Linked DNA regions of Homo sapiens: regions 1 and 3 are each linked to region 2. The links come from fine-mapping of genetic effects on plasma protein levels. Region 2 holds a variant in brackets. A gene starts in each other region. All regions are shown on their forward strands.

Region 1 (6,271 bases), not on the chromosome of region 2:
CCATGATCCAGAACTAAATGCATCCCCAATCTAACTTCCCCTTAAAGAGCCTAGAAGTGCCTGTGGCCTTTCCAGCACCACATTGTCTGAGGGGAAACTGAGGAAGTGATGTGTCGAGAGACAGGTCTTAACTGGCTGTGATTATGGCTTGCTTTCACATTTCACAAAAAATTTACAACTACGAAAACACATGGACTTAGGGCCCTGCCTGTGGCAGAGCCTGTACTGGCCCACACCAACATTCCATGTCCCCCTCCTCCTTCAGCTCCAGAACTCAAGTGAGCTCAACATCATCCATAATAAAAGACCCTGTTTCCAACCTGTTTCCAAGCCTCTGTTGTGGCCGGGCATGACTCTGGCCAGCAAGATGCATGCAGAAAGAATCTTCCAGAAGGCTGCTTTAAAGATGGCATTCTGTTACCCAATGTCCTCAAACCTCCAAAACTTGCTCTTCCTCCTCTTCTCCCTTCTCAGCTTGCACTCGAAACTCCAATTTCTACTACCTTAACCCCTTAGTAAAAGCACCCAATTGTTTCTGTGAATGAAACAACCCTGTATAATGAACCCATTTAACAAGGTTCTGTCGAATAATCGAATACATATATTAAAAACTCATTCATAGAATGGTATAATTCTATCCATTGATACAACTTTCACCTTAGCCAGATCCTTTGCCAGCTACTCATTTTTTTAGGGGAGCGACTCTAGGGTCTTTTTTCATGACTGCTGTGTTACTGGAGTGGGGCTGGGTGGCGTGGAAATCAGGGAATGGGGGAATCAAGGACACAGACATTTGCAGGGTCAAAGAAATGCCAATTTTAGGTCATCGAGCCATTTCCTCATTTCTTGAGTAGTAACGAGATGGTCGTGGGACTGATAGGTGGTATCGTTCGTCACGTTATCGTCCAAACCTCTCCCTCTGATGAGCCCGTCTTGCAGACATGAGCTTCTCAGCAGCGGTGGAGGTGGTGTACCCTCTCACGTGTTTTTATTCATTCATTCATTCATTCATCAAACATTTGTTGACCACTGTGAAACTGATTGGAACAATTCCTACCGCACGTGATGGAAAACCTCTATGGGCCATTGGCTTAAATAAGAGAGATGCTTCTTCTCCTCTGTTGTGAAACAAGCCTGGAAGTGTGCAGCCCAGGGACCAGGCTCAGGGTCACTGGGACCCAGGCTCCCTCGGCCTTGATGTGTCACCTGAAGCCATCACCTCATGGTCCAAATTCGTTGCCCACCTCCAGCCTTCACGTCCACACTCCAGGCAGCAGGAAGAAGGAATGGAAAAGGACCAAAAAGGGGGCGTACCCATGTAACCCCCTCCACCTGGAGTGTGCTGGACCTCATTCTGTACCCAGTCAGTCCTGCTCACCTGTCAGGTTCAGCTCCCCTAATCCATGCATCTCCTTCCCACGACAATGGGGTGGTTATTTGTACAATAACCATTTGTTGCATACAGTTGGCCCTCCATGTCCACAGTGGGTTGGTTCCAGGAAACCCCTGGCCACGCAAATACCGAAATCCGTGGATGCTCAAGTCCCTTATATAAAATGGCATAGTATTTGCATATAACCTACGCACATCTTCCCATATGCTTTATTTTTAATTTAACTTTTTTATTTTTGAGATGAAGTCTCACTCTGTCACCCAGATGCTGGAGTGCAGTGGCGCCGTTTCGGCTCACTGCAACCTCTGCCTCCCGGGTTCAGTTGTACAAGTGATTCTCCTGCCTCAGCGTCCCGAGTAGCTGGGATTACAGATGTCCGCCACCACATCTGGCTGAGTTTTTGTATATGTAGTAGAGAGAGGGTTTTGGCATGTTGGCCAGGCTGGTCTCGAACTCCTGACCTCAAGTGATCTGCCCGCCTCGGCCTCCCAAAGTGTTGTGATTACAGGCATAAGCCACCGCGATGGCCCTCCCACATGCTTTAAATCATCTCTAGATTACTTATAATACTGAGTATAATGTAAATGCTACATGAATAGTTGTTATACCGTATTGTTTAGGAAATAATGACAAGGAAAAAAGTCTGTACGTATTCGTACAGAGAAACCCATCCTAGGCCTACCTACAAGGACCCAGTCCATAGTGGGTTGAACCCACAGCCAGGGAACTCACAGATACAGAGGGGCCAACTGTAATGGGTCTCCGTGAGGGTCTAACTCCGCAAGGGCAGGGACCCTGCTGCTGATTTCACCACTGCAGCTCCACTGCCAGGCAATGGACGGTTGAGCTCCCGTGCAGTGGGCATGGCCCAGGTGACCCTTGACCCTTGCTTGAGTTCTCAGCTTCAGGGTGGTTTTTCCTGGTGGTGGACAGCGCTTCTAAGGAAGATGGGCTGGCTCGAAGGCAGCGGGGGACATCAGGCTTTCTGCTTGATTTCGATTACTCTAATGGTGACCCACTTTGTCTGCTGCACACTGGGCTGTCTTCAAGATGACAGGTTGACAATGACTGCCATTGGGTCATTACTGAGCAAAGAGCCATTAGCACACTGGCTGTGGTTCCAGCACAGTCTGTGCCGGGAGGCAGGTGTCTGTCATCCCAGGTGTGCTGGCCTCATTTGTCTGAAGGAATCTGCCGACCTCAGGAAACCCCAGCACGCCTTCAGGCCACTGCCTTGCTTGTCTGTAGCCTTCCCATGGTCACCGCACTTCCGGGCCAGGGTCCCAGCCAGGGTTTATACCGAGACCCACTCACCCAGACTAAGCGGGAAGCAAGACGGTGGGTGTCATCCCACGTGGAAAAAGAACTTAGGGACCTGGAGGAATCAGGCATGGGCATGTTTATTTTGAATACATGTGTCTAATTATTCAATGGAGCTTTCTTAAATGAATTCAAAATACATGTGAAGATTTGTTTCCAGTTGCTTAATGTCTTTTTAATAAGGAGGCTCTGACCAGATAACCTACCCTGAAATTTCTTTTTCGTTTGTTTTTTGTTTTTTGTTTTTCGAGACGGAGTCTCGCTCTGTCACCCAGGCTGGAGTGCAGTGGCACGATCTAGGCTCACTGCAAGCTCCGCCTCCTGGGTTCACGCCATTCTCCTGCCTCAGCCTCCCAAATAGCTGGGACCACAGGCGCCTGCCACCACTCCCGGCTAATTTTTTGTATTTTTGGTAGAGACGGGGTTTCACCATGTTAGCCAGGATGGTCTCGATCTCCTGACCTTGTGATCCACCCGCCTTGGCCTCCCAAAGTGCTGGGATTACAGGCATGAGCCACCGCACCCGGCCTGAAATTTATTTTTCTTTTTTTCCTTTCTCTTTCCTCACTTTCCTTCCTTCTCTTTTCTTCTTCTCCTTCTCCTCCTCGTCCTCCTCCTTCTTCTTCTTCTTTCTTCTTCTTCCCTTCTCTCTCTCTCTCTCTCTCTCTCCCTCCCTCCCTCCTTCTTTCTTTCTTGACAGAGACTTGCTCTGTTGCCTATGCTGGAGTGCAGGCTTGATCGTGGCTCACTGTAGCCTCAACCTCCTGGGCTCAGGTGATCCTCCCACCTCAGCCTCCTGAGCTGAGTAGCTGGGACTACAGGCACGTGCCATCATGCTTGGCTGATTTTTAAAAAATATTTATTTATTTATTTTTAGTAGAGATGAGGCCTTGCTATGTTGCCCCAGCTGGTCTTGGACTCCAGGGCTCAAGTGATCTATCTACTCACCTCAGCCTCCCAAAATGCTGGGATTACAAGCGTGAGCCACTGCGCCCAGTCTGAAGTTTCTTTGAAAGCAAAAAAGGAAACAAAAAGAGTACATAGGCCCAAATGAAGACAGCTGAAAGTTTAATGTACCTCAAATTCCAGCCCATGACTAAGGGATGGACTTTGAGTCTCTTTTCGAATCCATCTCAAGGATTTAGGTTTAGAGTTTGTGCTCCTTTAAACAGACTAAGAGCCTCTGTGACAAAGTAAATAGAGAAAATAAGTGTAGTCAAGCTCTGGCAGGATTTGGAAGGGGGCCTAACGTGGAAGAAAGGAGAAGGCTGGAATTGACTAAGATGTGCTATGCACTGGGCTGGATTTGTTCTCAGCAGAAAGCAAGAAAGAGCTCTGGGATGGTAGCAGGGCTCCCACTACCACCGGGGGCCAAAGGTTGCAGTATTTCTCAGGTAGCCAAGAGGCACCCATGAGCCCAGCCCCTGCCCACTCCCTGATGTCATCTAGACACAAGGACATGGGGCATGAGAGGACATCATTGTCACTTCTCTGCAGAGTCACAGGAACGTGCCCTCTGCTCCTCCGCCTCTCGGCTGTCCTTCTGCCCACGGCTGGCCCAGACTCTCATGGCGACTCACTGTCTCCCACGCCCCCACTCCCGGCAGGAAACCACTTCAGGGTTTACTGTGGGCTCCGAAATCAGCCTGTGAGTCCTAGTTAGGGTCCCCTGTGCCTGACTCTCCTCTCCCCAGGCTGCAAGAAATAGGGATGACCAGAAGTCAAACTGTGCCCTTGGGAACACCCCACCCCTCACCACTGTCGTGCCAGGAGTCTGTTCCTAAGACCCCTCCCCAAGTCCTGTCTCCTCCTCTTCCTCCCATAAACCACAGCAGACACTCAGCCACCAGGCTGCAGCCCTGCACCTTCTCCAGCAGCCGCTGGCCTTCGCCAGAGTTCTTGAAAGCCCAGTTGTCCTTCCCCAGCCACGTGGAGGCAGACGGATCTCTCCTGGGGGCAGCCTGTAGCTGTCTGTGCAAAGGTTCCCAAGACTAAAGTGTAGAGGACAGGTAAGATGACACTGTCATGATCATCATTCGTCCTGTGCCCTGTGGACATCAACCCACAGATGTGACATCAACCCATCTGATATTGAGCCCAGTGGGTGGGGAGATCCTAACCCAGCTGCTGCTGTTGAGGACTTGGGTGGTGTCTGGCCAGTGGGAGGGGAGGTCAGGCGAGTTTTCAGCAGATGACCCCGTGCTCTTCGGAAGCCCGGAGGTGCCACACTGTACAAGTGTGATGCCTGGGATCCTGTGCTCCCCTGATGCCTGGGAATGGGGTGAAGGAACAGCCTAGGCTTGGGTTCTCTCCTGGGTTGTTTCGGGACTTGGCCCCAGCTCAGGAAGGGTTTGTGGAGGAGCCAAGGAGGGCCTTGTTCCTGTGGGATGTCTTTGCCTTGGGCACAAGGACAGCCTCTTGCTGCTGCTCTGCCCACCGCCCACCCCTTGGCGGCCTCTGGGAGTCTGGGCTGCTCTCCCTCTGGACCTAACCAGTTGCCCAATGGCTGGACCTGCTTAAAGCTCCCTCTTACAACTGGACCAGGCAGCCAGGGGAGGCACTGAGAGGCCGAGCTTCTGAGCTGGTGCCTGTGGATGCTCGACGGTCCCGCAGCTCCCACAATGGGATGGCCAAGCAGACCCTGAGATCCACAGCCCCCCTTTAGTGAAACAGGAGGGAGGTCGCTGGGCACAGGGAGCCGGGAACGCCTGCCCTCCCCGCCATCGACGGCTCCCGAGGCCTGAACCTTCGCTCCAGCCCCAGCACAAGCCGGCCAGGGCGCAGGGCCAAGTGTTGCCCGCCATTCCCCGGGTACCCCATGACCTCCCAGCTGGGGCTGGCTCGGACTGAGGAGTCGTCCCTGCCCGTCACCCTCTGGGGTCTCCAGTGCTGCGGAGCTCAGCTGGCTTTTGCAGCGGTAGGGGCTGGGAGGAGAAGCTGCAGGGAGACCGCAGGCGTGGGACGTTGTGGGGGGTCAGGCTTGCTCTGGGGCTGGGACCCCGGGGGGAGCAGTGGGGTTGACGCCACAGCGATGACTTGGGCCACGGGTCTGGGGGCTCTCCCGCGGGGCGATTGGGCTCTGTCTTTCGGGATTAGGGTCTCTCCCACAGGGTTTGGGGTTCTCTCTGCAGATTTGGGGGAGTCTCTCCCGCGGGATGAGGGGGGGCTCTCCGCCGCACCCGCCTATGATGGCCCAGAGGACCCGAGCTCGGGTCACTCCCGTCGCCCTCGGGGCTCGGCGAGGGTGCAGGAGGCGGGCGCTGAGCCGGTGACGCGACTCCGGGCGGCTCCCGGGTGCGCCGCATATATAGCAGCGGCGGCGGTGGCGGCGGCCACACCGGGCGGCGGACACGTGGAGGGACCCGGCCCGCGCCTTCTGCCCCTGCTGCCGGCCGCGCCATGCGGTGAGCGCCCCAGGCCGCCAGAGCCCACCCGACCCGGCCCGACGCCCGGACCTGCCGCCCAGACCCGCCACCGCACCCGGACCCCGACGCTCCGAACCCGGGCGCAGCCGCAGCTCAAGGTACTACTGGCGCCGGGCCGACCCTGCGCCCCCGG
Region 2 (5,000 bases):
GGCTTTGTCCCTGATCAGGGTGAAACAAAAAACAATGGCCCAAAAAATGCAGCAGGAGTGAGTGAGGTCAGATAGCAGAAAGAACTTCTCAATAATAGCTAATGTTTGAGTAATACTTCCTCGATTAGTAAGGCACTATTCTAAGCACTTTAAATTTACCAGTTCATTTAATTCTTGGAACAACAATGAGGCAGATAATAGCTCTATTTTATAGGTAAGGAAACTGAGGCACAGGGAGGTTAAGTCACTTGGCCAAGGTCACATAGCTATTAGCAGCTAGTAAGTGGAAGAGCCAAGATTTGAAGTAAACTGGTTTCAGGAATTAGTTCTTAACTACTAAACAGCTTGTTCTGTTTCTTTCTGTTATTTTTTGTTTGTTGGTTGTTTTTGGTTTTGGTTTTTTTGTTTGTTTTGGCAGGAAGGGGAGGACAGGGCTCTGTGATGCAGTGGGTGAGGATTAAGGTGGGATTGGCCCAGGCCTCTGGCTTCTCTTGCTGCCTGCCCCCTCTCTGGTGTGCGGAGGCTGGTTGGAGACTTGTACCAGAACTTGTTCCTAGCTGGTCCATTCTCAGATGCAGAATAAGCAAAAGATAGCTTGCATGTCTGAGAATGGGACCCTCCTTTGCAAGTAGGCCTCCCCCTGCCACAGGTCCAGGTGTTCCCAGAGAATGGCTCAGGTTGGAGCACCAAGAAGGAAGGCAGTGTGGACAAGCCAGTGGCCAGGCCGGCCTAGCCGCGGCCCCCAAGAGTGGCTTGGTCAGGGAAAATCTGTGCCTCCTGAACATCTGGTGGAAGGTATCTGCCTCAGCTTGCCCTTCCTTCTCCATGTTCAACACTACTACATGCCAGACCCCATGCAGGACCCTGGGCTTCCCTCTAGCGTACCTCCAACAGCCTCTGCAGCTGACCTGGGTGGGTCACAGGCAAGGTGGCTGGGTAGCGCCCATTTCTGAGTGGCTTTCAGGGATGTCCTGTGGACAAGCAAGGGGAAGCTCTGGTGACCCATTTCTTTGCCTCTGGAGTCTGGTCATTAGGGAGGATCCTATGCTGTGCCTAAGATGGGCACGCACCCAGCAGGCTATCTTGGGGCAGGGAGCATTAGGAGCTGACCGTCTCCTCTTACTTACTCTGCTGCCCACTGACATCTCCTAAGGCCTGGAATTTCATCATTGACAATTTATTCTCTTTTTTTCCAAAATTGTGTACATTTTATTTTATGAAATATCATTTTATTTATTTATTTATTTATTTCAATAGGTTTCTGGGGAACAGATGGTGTTTGGTTACATGAATAAGTTCTTTCGTGGTGATTTCTGAGATTTTGGTGCACCCATCACCCAAGCAGTGTACACTGCACCCAATGTGTAGTCTTTGATCTGTCACCTCACACCCAACCTTTCCCCAAGTCCCCAAAGTCCATTGTGTCATTCTTATGCCTTTGCATCCTCATGGCTTAGCTTCCACTTATAAGTGAGAACATACGATGTTTGGTTTTCCATTCCTGAGTTACTTCACTTAGAATAATAGTCTCAAATTCCATCCAGGTTGCTGTGAATGCCATTATTTTGTTCCTTTTTATGGCTGAGGAGTATTCCATGGCATATTTATACTGCAATTTCTTTATCCACTTGTTGGTTGATGGGCATTTGGGCTGGTACCATATTTTTGCAATTACAAATTGTACTGCTGTAAACATGCGTGTGCAAGTATCTTTTTCGTATAATGACTTCTTTTCCTCTGGGTAGATACCCAGTAGTGGGATTACTGGATCAAATGGTAGTTCTACTTTTAGTTCTTTGAGGAATCTCCACACTGTTTTCCATAGTGGTTGTACTAGTTTACATTCCCACCAGCAACATCACTGGCAATGAATTCTTTAGCTTAAATGTTGCCCTCATTCTGTGGGCTTATTTTAAAATTGCAGATACCACTGTGAGAGGTAATAGATTAAGTCCCTGATTGTAAAAAGAATGTGTTTACCTGATACTTTCTGCTCTACAGTAGAGATGTAGACACACAAATTCTGAGTTTGCTAAAGGTGATGTTAAAGAACAGGAGAAGGGCGTACAAAAAGCAGAGGGCTATTGGGAAGCCTCCCTCCCACCCCACCAGGTTCTGTTTGCAGAAGAACTGGCTTCTGGCGTGATTTCTGCCCTTCTTTGACTCTGTTTCCTTGTGCCAGACTCTCCTGCATACTGGGCTTCAGTTTCTCCTTGGAATGATGAGAAAGGTGGGCTGGAGAATGGGGTGTCAAGGCCCCTCCAGAGTCCATGTGTTCTGGGTCTTTAACCACAGGTTTCCGAGAGAGCGCTTTTGCCTACGCCATCGCAGCAGCTGGCGTGGTGCACGCCGTGTCCAATGCGTGTGCCCTGGGCAAACTGAAGGCCTGTGGCTGTGATGCGTCCCGGCGAGGGGACGAGGAGGCCTTCCGTAGGAAGCTGCACCGCTTACAACTGGATGCACTGCAGCGTGGTAAGGGCCTGAGCCATGGGGTCCCGGAACACCCAGCCCTGCCCACAGCCAGCCCAGGCCTGCAGGACTCCTGGGAGTGGGGCGGCTGCAGCCCCGACATGGGCTTCGGGGAGCGCTTTTCTAAGGAC[T/A]TTCTGGACTCCCGGGAGCCTCACAGAGACATCCACGCGAGAATGAGGCTTCACAACAACCGAGTTGGGAGGCAGGTGAGAGCCCCACCCCTGGGTCTGCTTCAAATCTCTTTGCCTAGGGCCTACCCCTTGCCCTGGCCTACCTCTCTTCTGAGGACCACGTTGCTCCCACATGTCACACCTTGGCAATCTTCTCGTTGACCCTGTCTAATTCAACAAACATGCACTGAGTATGCACTGTGCACCAGGCACTGGACTAGGCCTGGGGATACAGGGCAGAAACAAGCCCTGTTGCCCTGGATCAGCATACCACCTGCTGAGCAACCTGCTTCTCCTACTTCCTCGGGTGATCACCCAGGAGAAAGGACAGGGGTGCAGTCAGGACTTCAGGAGTCTAGGCCTGGAGCTCCCATCTGACTCCTCCCCTATAGAGTGACAAGGTTGAACTAGATCATCCCTAAGGTTCCCCCCAATGCTAATGTTCCATGATCCAGTGATCTCTCCCAGCCTTTCTGTGCAGTCTAGAATGAGGGATTCCTGCAAAGTAAGGGGTGTAAGTGAAGTTCCTAGGGGCCACTGGGGAACTGTGTTATGGTGCCTTTCTCCTTTATCCTCTGTCCTCAAATGCTCCTACTACCTCAAGGGTCATTCATTAAAAATAAATTAAATACATACACACATACATAAAAAAGCAGCAGAAGAAAGGATAGTGGTAATAGCCTGCATTTATTGAGTGCTTACTATGTGTTAGGCACTGTCTTGAGCACTTTCCTACATATTAACCTATTTAATCCTTACAACTACCTATGAAGTGGGCACTGTTATTAACCTTATGTTGAGATATGGAAACTGAGGCATGGATTGACCAAGAAGCTTGCCCAAAATGATGCAACTAGTGAGAAGGTGGTCCAGGCAGGGTTCATCCCCAGGCAGTTGACCTTTGAGCCTGTTCTCTTTTGTTCTACAGCGTTGAGTCCACATTCTGATGCCCTGTTGGCTCTCATGGTAGCTCAGCACTGTCCTTTCCTGAGCATTCCATCTCCATCATCCCTTCTTTTGACTCTGCTCAGCCTGTTGAGGCCTTTTACCTGGCTTCCTCTCACTCTGGCTGGCACCTTCTCCATCTCACTCTTCTTTCTCTTGGCCTCTTAGCCCACGATGGGTCATCTTCCTGCACAAAGCTGATTCAGCAATTCCCATCTTGACTTAGAGGCGGGGTAAACTGAGGCACACTTACCCTTGGGTCATGTCCAGCTCCCACCCAGCCTGCCCTGTACAGCTCTTTTCCCAAGCCTCACCGCCATCCCAGCCCATACCAACGGTGCCTCCTCCTCCTCCTCCTCGTTAAACTGGTTAATTAATGGCTGCTGCCCGTGGGAAGCAGATGTTCTGGAGCTGTTGGCCTGGGGAGGCATTGGTCTGGTTCCCACGTGGTGCTGACAGCACAGGCTGCGCATGCACGCTGTGGAGCCCTTTCAGACCTCGAGGGGAAGGCGCCCTCTCTTATGGCCCTACTGCCCAAGTTTAAGGGCCCTGGATCATTGCCGTCCCTGTCTCAGGGTGTGTTTTCGGAGTGGACTGAGGGAAAGGAGGGGATGTGGCCAACTTCTTACGGGGTTTCTGGTGAAAATGTCAAAGGGTTCTTAGTAAGGAGACTCTAGAGCAGGTTGTGAGCTGGGTTGGGGGCGGCTGGGTTGCGTTCCCATAACCACCTCCCTTGGAGGCCTGAGACCTTCTCCACTTTCACTGAGCTGGAGAGCCTGGCTCTCTCCGGTTCCATTCTGTATTAGGTAGAGCTTTGGCCCCTGGTGGCGCTGACTTTTCCTAGGACGAACCATGGGTCTCAGCATAGTGCAGAATGAGCCCCAGGCAGCATAATCGGGGACAGTTTCCCCAGCACTTGTCCCCCTCCTTTGGCTCTCTACAAAGAGATGTAGGGGGAGCTGGAGAGGGAAGGACTGAGAGGGGGACCAAGGCTTTCTGAAACTCACCGAACACCCCTCCACCCACCCCACCACACACACACACACACACACACACACACACACACACACACACACACACACACACACGGCCTGGAGCGAGATACAGCGGGGCCAGCACCCTCCTGCTCCTGGCCCCTACCCCAGGGGTGGCAGGAGAGGGAATTTCCCTGCCTATTTGGGATCCCCCTTCAGGAAGCAAGAGCCTCCAGCCCCAAGGGCCCCCTGCAGCTGCTGGAAAGGCGGGCAGGAGAGGAGGGGAGCCGGCAGGTGGGAATTCCCCCGGGGCCTGGCCTGGTGGGAGGTGGGTGGGAGAGGCAGAGGCAGAGGCAGAAGAGCAGGTACAGAAGTTCTTCTGACTGCCTGGTTGTGGGACCCTCGCTCCCGGCCTCAGCGTTTGCCTCTGTATAATGGGAGT
Region 3 (6,260 bases), not on the chromosome of region 2:
GGAACCAGAGAGTTGTGAGTTTATTAAGGGAGATCTAGTGCTTATCCTAGAATCAGCCCTTGCTGCCTATGATCTTCTTGATCCAGTCCAGGTAGCGGCAGATGTTGGTATAGACGCCAGGTTTGTCGGACCTCCCACAGGGGTCTGAGCCCCAGGATGTGATGCCCTGGAGTGCACCATCACACACCAGGGGGCCTCCAGAATCGCCCTAGACAGGGAGAATGAGAACAGCCTTGCATCTGAGATGTCCACAACGTCCCTTTTCCTGCTGTCCCAGCGTTTTACCAGTTCTTTGGCATGATTGGTCCCCTGTAGCCAATGGGGGTAAAAGCATTGTCCCCTGAGACCAGTCAGGACAGGGCTTGGGGCTTCCATGTACAGACAGACATGGTGTCTAAGGGTAGTGGTCAAAACACTGACAGAAGAGGGGAAAGAATGAAATCCCAGACAGGCTTGGTGGCTCACACCTGCAATCCCGGCACTTTGGGAGGCCGAGGCGGTAGATCACTTGAAGTCAGGCGTTCCAGACCAGCCTGGCCAACATGGTGAATCCCTGTCTCTACTAAAAATACAAAAACTAGCTGGGTGTGGTGGTGCACACCTGTAATCACAGCTACTCGGGAGGCTGAGGTGGGAGAATTGCTTGAACTGGGAGGCAGAGGCTGCAGTGAGCCAAGATTGTGCCACTGCATTCCAGCTTGGGGGACAGAGCGAGACCCTGTCTCAAAAAAAAAAAAAAAAGAGTTCTCGAGGGTCCAATCCAGGGAGAAGACAGTAGGGATTACTTGGAGAGGACTGAGCTGAAGTTTCCTCTGTTCCTGGCCAATAGTGAAGGCATCATTGATTGCAGTTGCCAAACATAGGAGAAAGGATCAAGATTCTTATGGACACACACACACACACACACACACACACACACACACACACACACACCATATCCCCAAGAGACCATGGCTGAAATATTTGTGGAAGAGACCACTATCTCTACAGAACAATCCAGAGACTGGCTTTCATGGCAGTATCGCTGATGGAAACGACTCCATTTTTGGCCAATGGGGAAGAAAGCATTGTATTTAGGGACCAGTCATTGGCAAAGGTGGTGGGGCTTCCAGGAAGTGGACAAAGCCAGGGGAAAGTGCTAGGAACAACGAAGTTGCAGTTAGAAGAGAGAGTTATATCTATGACAAATCCCAAGAGAAAGGGATTGGAGCTCATTGAGGAAGCACTGAAGTCAATGGCACCATTTACTCCAGCCAACTGGGAAGACACCATTGTCTCCCAAGGAACCAATCACAGGAGAAGGGAACCAGCCTTGGGATTCTAGCCCGGTCTCAAAGAAAAGTGGCTGACCACCGGGCCGGTGGTAAAGTCGGCACAAATTCCACGATGTAATGCTGGGAACCAGAGAGCAGGCAACTCGTCTAAACTCTAGCCTCAGACTCTCTCCTTGCTGGACATCTACCCCACCCTCTATAGCCCCCAACTCTGCATCCCATCCTGTAGTTAAGCGTTCGAAAGAAAACAGCAGCAGCAATTCAATGCTCCTAATCCCTATGCAGTGTGACTTTCAGAGAGAGAGTTTGGCTTCTCTGAACCTGGCTCCCAATCCGTAGAGATAGGGGTGAACACTCCGGGTGCCAAGTCTTTGGGGTCACTCCCTTACCACCCCCACCCCCATCCAAGCCTTGAACCTCGAGAGGGCAATGAGGGATGTGTGAGGAGAAGGATTTCAGAAATTGCTCACCTGGCACGTGTCAGCCCCTTTGCTGCTGCCTGCACAGACCATGCCATCTGTGATCTGCCCCGGGTAAGCATCCTCACACTTCTTCTGGGGAAAGATTTTTACTTCTGCACAGTTGAGAGTGTCAGGAAAATTCTCTGAGGGGGAAGAGGTTGTAAGGTTCCCTGAGAGAGCAGCCCTTTGCCTCCATCCCTGTCTGGATCTAACCCCCTTTCTTTCCAGGATGTAATGGGGGAGTTTTCCAGCTGCATGGGGGAATTTTCTGACACTGTGCACAGGGGACATCACTTCTCACCACATTAAACGAAGCTGTACTTGTTGCTATTGGGCTTTCTCCATCTAGAGAGGGGCCCTTGGATCTCACGTGTTTTTTCTTACCCTGAGCCATTTTCAAATCAAGGGGCTGGGGGTTACTTGGAGGTGCCCCTTTATGATACCTCTGACCCTCTCTTTCCAGTCTTCCTGCCCTCAGACAACCGGGTCCTCAATCTGTGCTAAATCCTGCTCCTTCCAAGTGTCACCTCCTCCTGGAAGCCTTCCCTGACCACTCGAATTAAAAAATACCATCCCTCCATTACTCCCTATCCTTTTACGCTCCACAATATTTCCTTACAGCACTTTGCCTAATGTTTTATTTTATGTGTATTTGTTTATTGTCTATTTCTCCCACCTAGCTTGCAACTCCATAACGACAAGGACTTTGTACAGTTTGCTCATGGCTGTATATCCAGCGCCTGCAACAGCACCTCAGGCATACTAGGTGCTCAGTAAATAAGAGTTGAATTAATGATTGAAGGTGGAATTGATCTTTTTTATTAACCTCTTTTGAGGAATAGACTTCTCCAAAGCCTCTTTGAGGGGGAAAAACTTCCATCTGGCATCTCTACGTGCCAAAAGCAATATGCTCATAATCTCATTTAATCCTCACAACAGCGCTTTGAAGGAGAGATGCATTCATTCATTTCATTATTTATTCATCAGGTCATCCATTCAACAAATATTTATTGAGCATCTACCATGTAGCAGGCACCATTCTGAGCACTAGGAGAACACAATGAAGAAAACTGATGTAACCTGAACCCTCACGTAGCTAAAAAATCTATTGGTTAATGATTCCCATTTTGCAGATAAGGAAAGTGAGGCTCAGAGATGGAAAGGAATTTGCCCAGGGAGAAAGGGCAGAGCCATAGTTTGAACTGATCTACTTGATTTGCGAGCACGTGTGTTTCCACAGCCGCAAACTGTCTCATCCAAAGCATTCAGAGCAGGAGTGAGGCAGGCAGGGACCTGAATGCTGACTTTGCCACTTCCTGGAGAAGCTCCTTGACTCTCTTAGGTGAGTCCCAATGTTTTCACTGTGAAGGAAGGCGAGGGGCTCTCTGGATTCTGGAGTCCCAAAGGGACAGCTTCATTGGAGGTCCAGATTTTGGGGTCCAGAGTCAAGAGGGAGCTAGGACTGCTGGGTCCTGGGAGAAGAAGGGCCTAGACTCCCGGGTCTGAGGGAAGAGGTGACCAGGGCCCAGGTTTCCTGGGTTCAAGAAGGAGAAAAAGGCCAGGGGCGGTGGCTCATGCTTGTAATCCCAGCACTTTGGTAGGCCGAGGCGGGCAGATCACTTGAGGTCAGGAGTTCGAGACCAGCCTGGTCAACATGGCGAAACCCTGTCTCTACAACAAATACAAAAATTAGCTCGCGTGGTGGCGGGTGCCTGTAATCCCAGCTACTCGGGAGGCTGAGGTTCGAGAATCGCTTAAACCCAGGAGGCAGAGATTGTAGTGAGCTGAGATTGTGCCACTGCACTCCAGCCTGGGCGATTGAGTGAAACTGTGTCCCCCTGCAAAAAAAAAAAAAAAAAAAAAAAAAAAAAAAAAAAAAAAAAGGAGGGAGGTGGGGGAGAAGGTGCTTAGGAGCCTGTTTTCCTGGGCCTCTGAGAAGTCCAAATATCCCAAGTGTGTTAAGATTATATAAAATCCTATACAACCAAAGGTCCCATAGGGTAGTGCTCTCCGCCATACAGGATGGGCTTTTCTGGCCCTGCTTAACAATCTGCTAGTTGGTTCTTTCTCTCACCACTCTTGTTAGTAGTCAGATCTTCGAGGCTTCTCATATGACTCCTGCTTGTGAATCTCAACATCATGATCACTTTCCCTTCTTTGTCTCCCTCTGGGGGACCAAGCTTTGCCAATAGCTTGGGTTCCACTGGGCCAACCAGCTCCTCCTCTCCCTCCCATTAGTGGACAAGCCCACTACCTCGGGGACTGGTGACAGTGCCCCAGCCTGAGACGGTGCACTTCTGGCCAGGCTGGGTGCAATGATCTGCCAGGCTGATGGGCTTCACTTTGGACCCCAGGGATGCCTGGTCACGCAGTTGAAGAAGCATCAGATCATGGTTGTGGTCCTCCACATCGCTGCTGTTGTAGCAGGGGTGTGGGATGGACTGAACCACAGGTATTTCTTGCTCTGGGCCATCTTTATTCTGTAGGCTGTGGTCTCCCAGGCGTACTGTGTATTTCCTGTAATGGTGGGGATAGTTTGGGACCCAGGCAGGGGTATTGCCCCCAGCCCCCTCCTCCTTCAGACCCAGGAGTCCAGTCCTCAGCTCTCTCCTTCCTGAGTCGAAACCCCAGCCCCCTCTTTCCTTAAGCCCCAGCTGACCTCTGCCCCCATCATCCACTCACGGTTTTTTACAGTGGGCAGCTGTAAGGACCCAGTTGCCACCTACAAGGACACCGCCACAGAGTAGTTGCTGGCCCTGGAACAAGGCCGCCTGCCAAGGCTGCGAATGGGGTTGGCACTCATGACCCCCCAGCACCTTGTCCTCCTGTGCCCTGGAGTGTCCTGCAGCAGGAGGGAGAGGGTTGGATCGCCACCCTCTGGGGCAGTGCGAGGGCTGGGAAGGCCACTGTGGGTTCAAATGGACACACGGCAAGTTCTCCGCATACAACTTAGTGAGGAGGTCCAGGCTTCCACACGCTGCCACACGGGGACACTCATTTCAGTCCATGTGTCATCATACAAGAGTCACACACCCAAGAATGCCCCCACATGCTTCCACATGAGTCTACAGGCCCCGAGTACTCCCAGGTGAATCTATGCCCCCAAGCAAGCAGCCCCCAAAGGCTGTAGCTATTCAGACAATTTACAGCATCACGGAACCTACTCCTACCTGCTGCTACCTGTTTCTTGCCTCTGTCCACCCTGAGGAAAGCCCACAGAGGCTCCTGCACCGTATCGCACTCTTCACATCCGTGCACACGCACCCACATAACCCCCGCGGCATTCCCACAGACTCCCCAGCGCCACTGCTGCCTTCAGATCCCTCCCCTCCGGAGGCCTCCGCAACCCTCCTCACCTGCCCAGGCTCCCCCCAGCAAGAGCAGGAACATCCACGTCTTGGCCGCACGAGGTCGGGGGCGTCCCATGGTGAGGTCTGGGAAATGGAGAGGGCGGGGCCGGTAAACAGGAAGGAGGAGCCTGAGCTCCCAGTTCTGGATTTGGGCACTGGGGAGGCAGCCGAGAGTATCTGGGGCTGTTCTGGGCTTCTCTGGAGGAAGGAGGAGGCTGGGGGACTGGATTCCTACATTCCAAGGGAGGGGGGAGTCCTCGATGTCTGGGTCTGAGGGGACAGGGAGCTGGGAGCTGGGACTCCTAAATTAGGGAGAGGAGGAAGCCGGGGTCCAGACTGCTGGATCTCGACAGAGAAGGGCATCTGAGGCTGGGGTCCTGGAATCTGGAGAAGGAGGGTCCGGGGCCTGATGTCTGTATCTGAGTACCTCTGCACCTCACCTTCCAGAATCCAGGGGCGGGGTCACCTACTGATTCGGACCCAGTGGAGGAGGCCCCAGTACTTCAGTTCTCTGCCTGGTACACGATTCTGGAGCCTTTTAACTGGGAATCTCCACCTCCTGCTCCTCCTCCTTCTCCTCCTGCACTAGAGCCTGGGGAGCTTCTGGGAACTGGAACACTGGGTGTGAGTGAGAAGGGGCGGAGGGGATTGAACGTGAAATCTTGAGGGAGGAGGGGCTGGAATCTCAGACTCCTGAGGCTAGGGAGAGGAGGGACTCGGTGCTGAGACTCTACGATCTGAAACATAAAGGGCTGGGGGCCAAGATTTTAGTTCTGAGAGGGGAGGAGGCTGGGGGCCTGGATTCCTGGGTCTGAGGGAGGAGAGGCTGGGGGCCTGGACTCCTAAATCTAAGGGAGGAGGGACTGGGACCTGGGATTTAGGTCTGACCGAGGAGGGGCTGGGGGCCCAGACTCCTGGGTCTGAGGGAGGAGGGGGCTGCTAGGGGCCAGGACTCCTGGGTCTGAGGGAGGAGGGGCTAGGGGCCTGGATTCCTGGGTGTGAGGGAGGAGAGAGCTGGGGGCTGAATTCTAAGTACTTTTAAAAGGAGAAGCTTGGAACCTGATCTTTTGTGGGAGGAGGGGGCTGCTGCCAGTAACCGGGAACCGAAGAAAGGCAGGTCTTCTAGGGTCAGAAACCAGAGGGTGGATCAGGCCCCGCCCGCTGTCCCCTGAGAG

Which allele goes with the higher level. Positions count from the first base shown, and alleles are read on the strand shown. Strength reflects both the effect of a copy and how common the allele is.
As copies of A replace T in region 2, the plasma level of the protein whose gene starts at base 6,048 in region 1 goes down (moderate association).
As copies of A replace T in region 2, the plasma level of the protein whose gene starts at base 5,598 in region 3 goes down (weak association).

The links. PIP is the posterior inclusion probability: the model's chance that the variant is causal. The UK Biobank Pharma Proteomics Project read protein levels with antibody pairs (Olink). The fine-mapping took linkage between variants from a reference panel, not from the people measured, so its PIPs are less certain.
Region 1: GAL starts here. The variant in region 2 is fine-mapped to the plasma level of the GAL protein (UK Biobank, PIP above 0.99).
Region 3: it holds the start of KLK8, and the variant in region 2 is fine-mapped to the plasma level of the KLK8 protein (UK Biobank, PIP 0.92).

Annotation. Positions count from the first base shown.
Region 1 is chr11:68,678,497-68,684,767 of GRCh38, forward strand. GAL (galanin and GMAP prepropeptide) reads left to right here and starts at 6,048. Exons shown (of 6, transcript NM_015973.5): 1 at 6,048-6,236. All of the region lies in intron 2 of LOC107984343 (a long non-coding RNA gene), which reads right to left. RefSeq lists enhancers at 4,767-5,442, 6,119-6,271.
Region 2 is chr2:218,887,689-218,892,688 of GRCh38, forward strand. WNT10A (Wnt family member 10A) reads left to right here. Exons shown (of 4, transcript NM_025216.3): 3 at 2,296-2,675. Among named protein-coding and RNA genes, the nearest start is that of WNT10A, 9.3 kb to the left of the region's middle. RefSeq lists enhancers at 4,226-4,355, 4,872-5,000, 4,956-5,000. The variant T/A (reference allele first, on the strand shown) is at 2,601.
Region 3 is chr19:50,996,007-51,002,266 of GRCh38, forward strand. KLK8 (kallikrein related peptidase 8) reads right to left here and starts at 5,598. Exons shown (of 6, transcript NM_007196.4): 1 at 5,526-5,598; 2 at 5,092-5,169; 3 at 4,418-4,577; 4 at 3,990-4,252; 5 at 1,745-1,878; 6 at 2-208. The coding sequence starts at 5,161. The coding sequence ends at 53.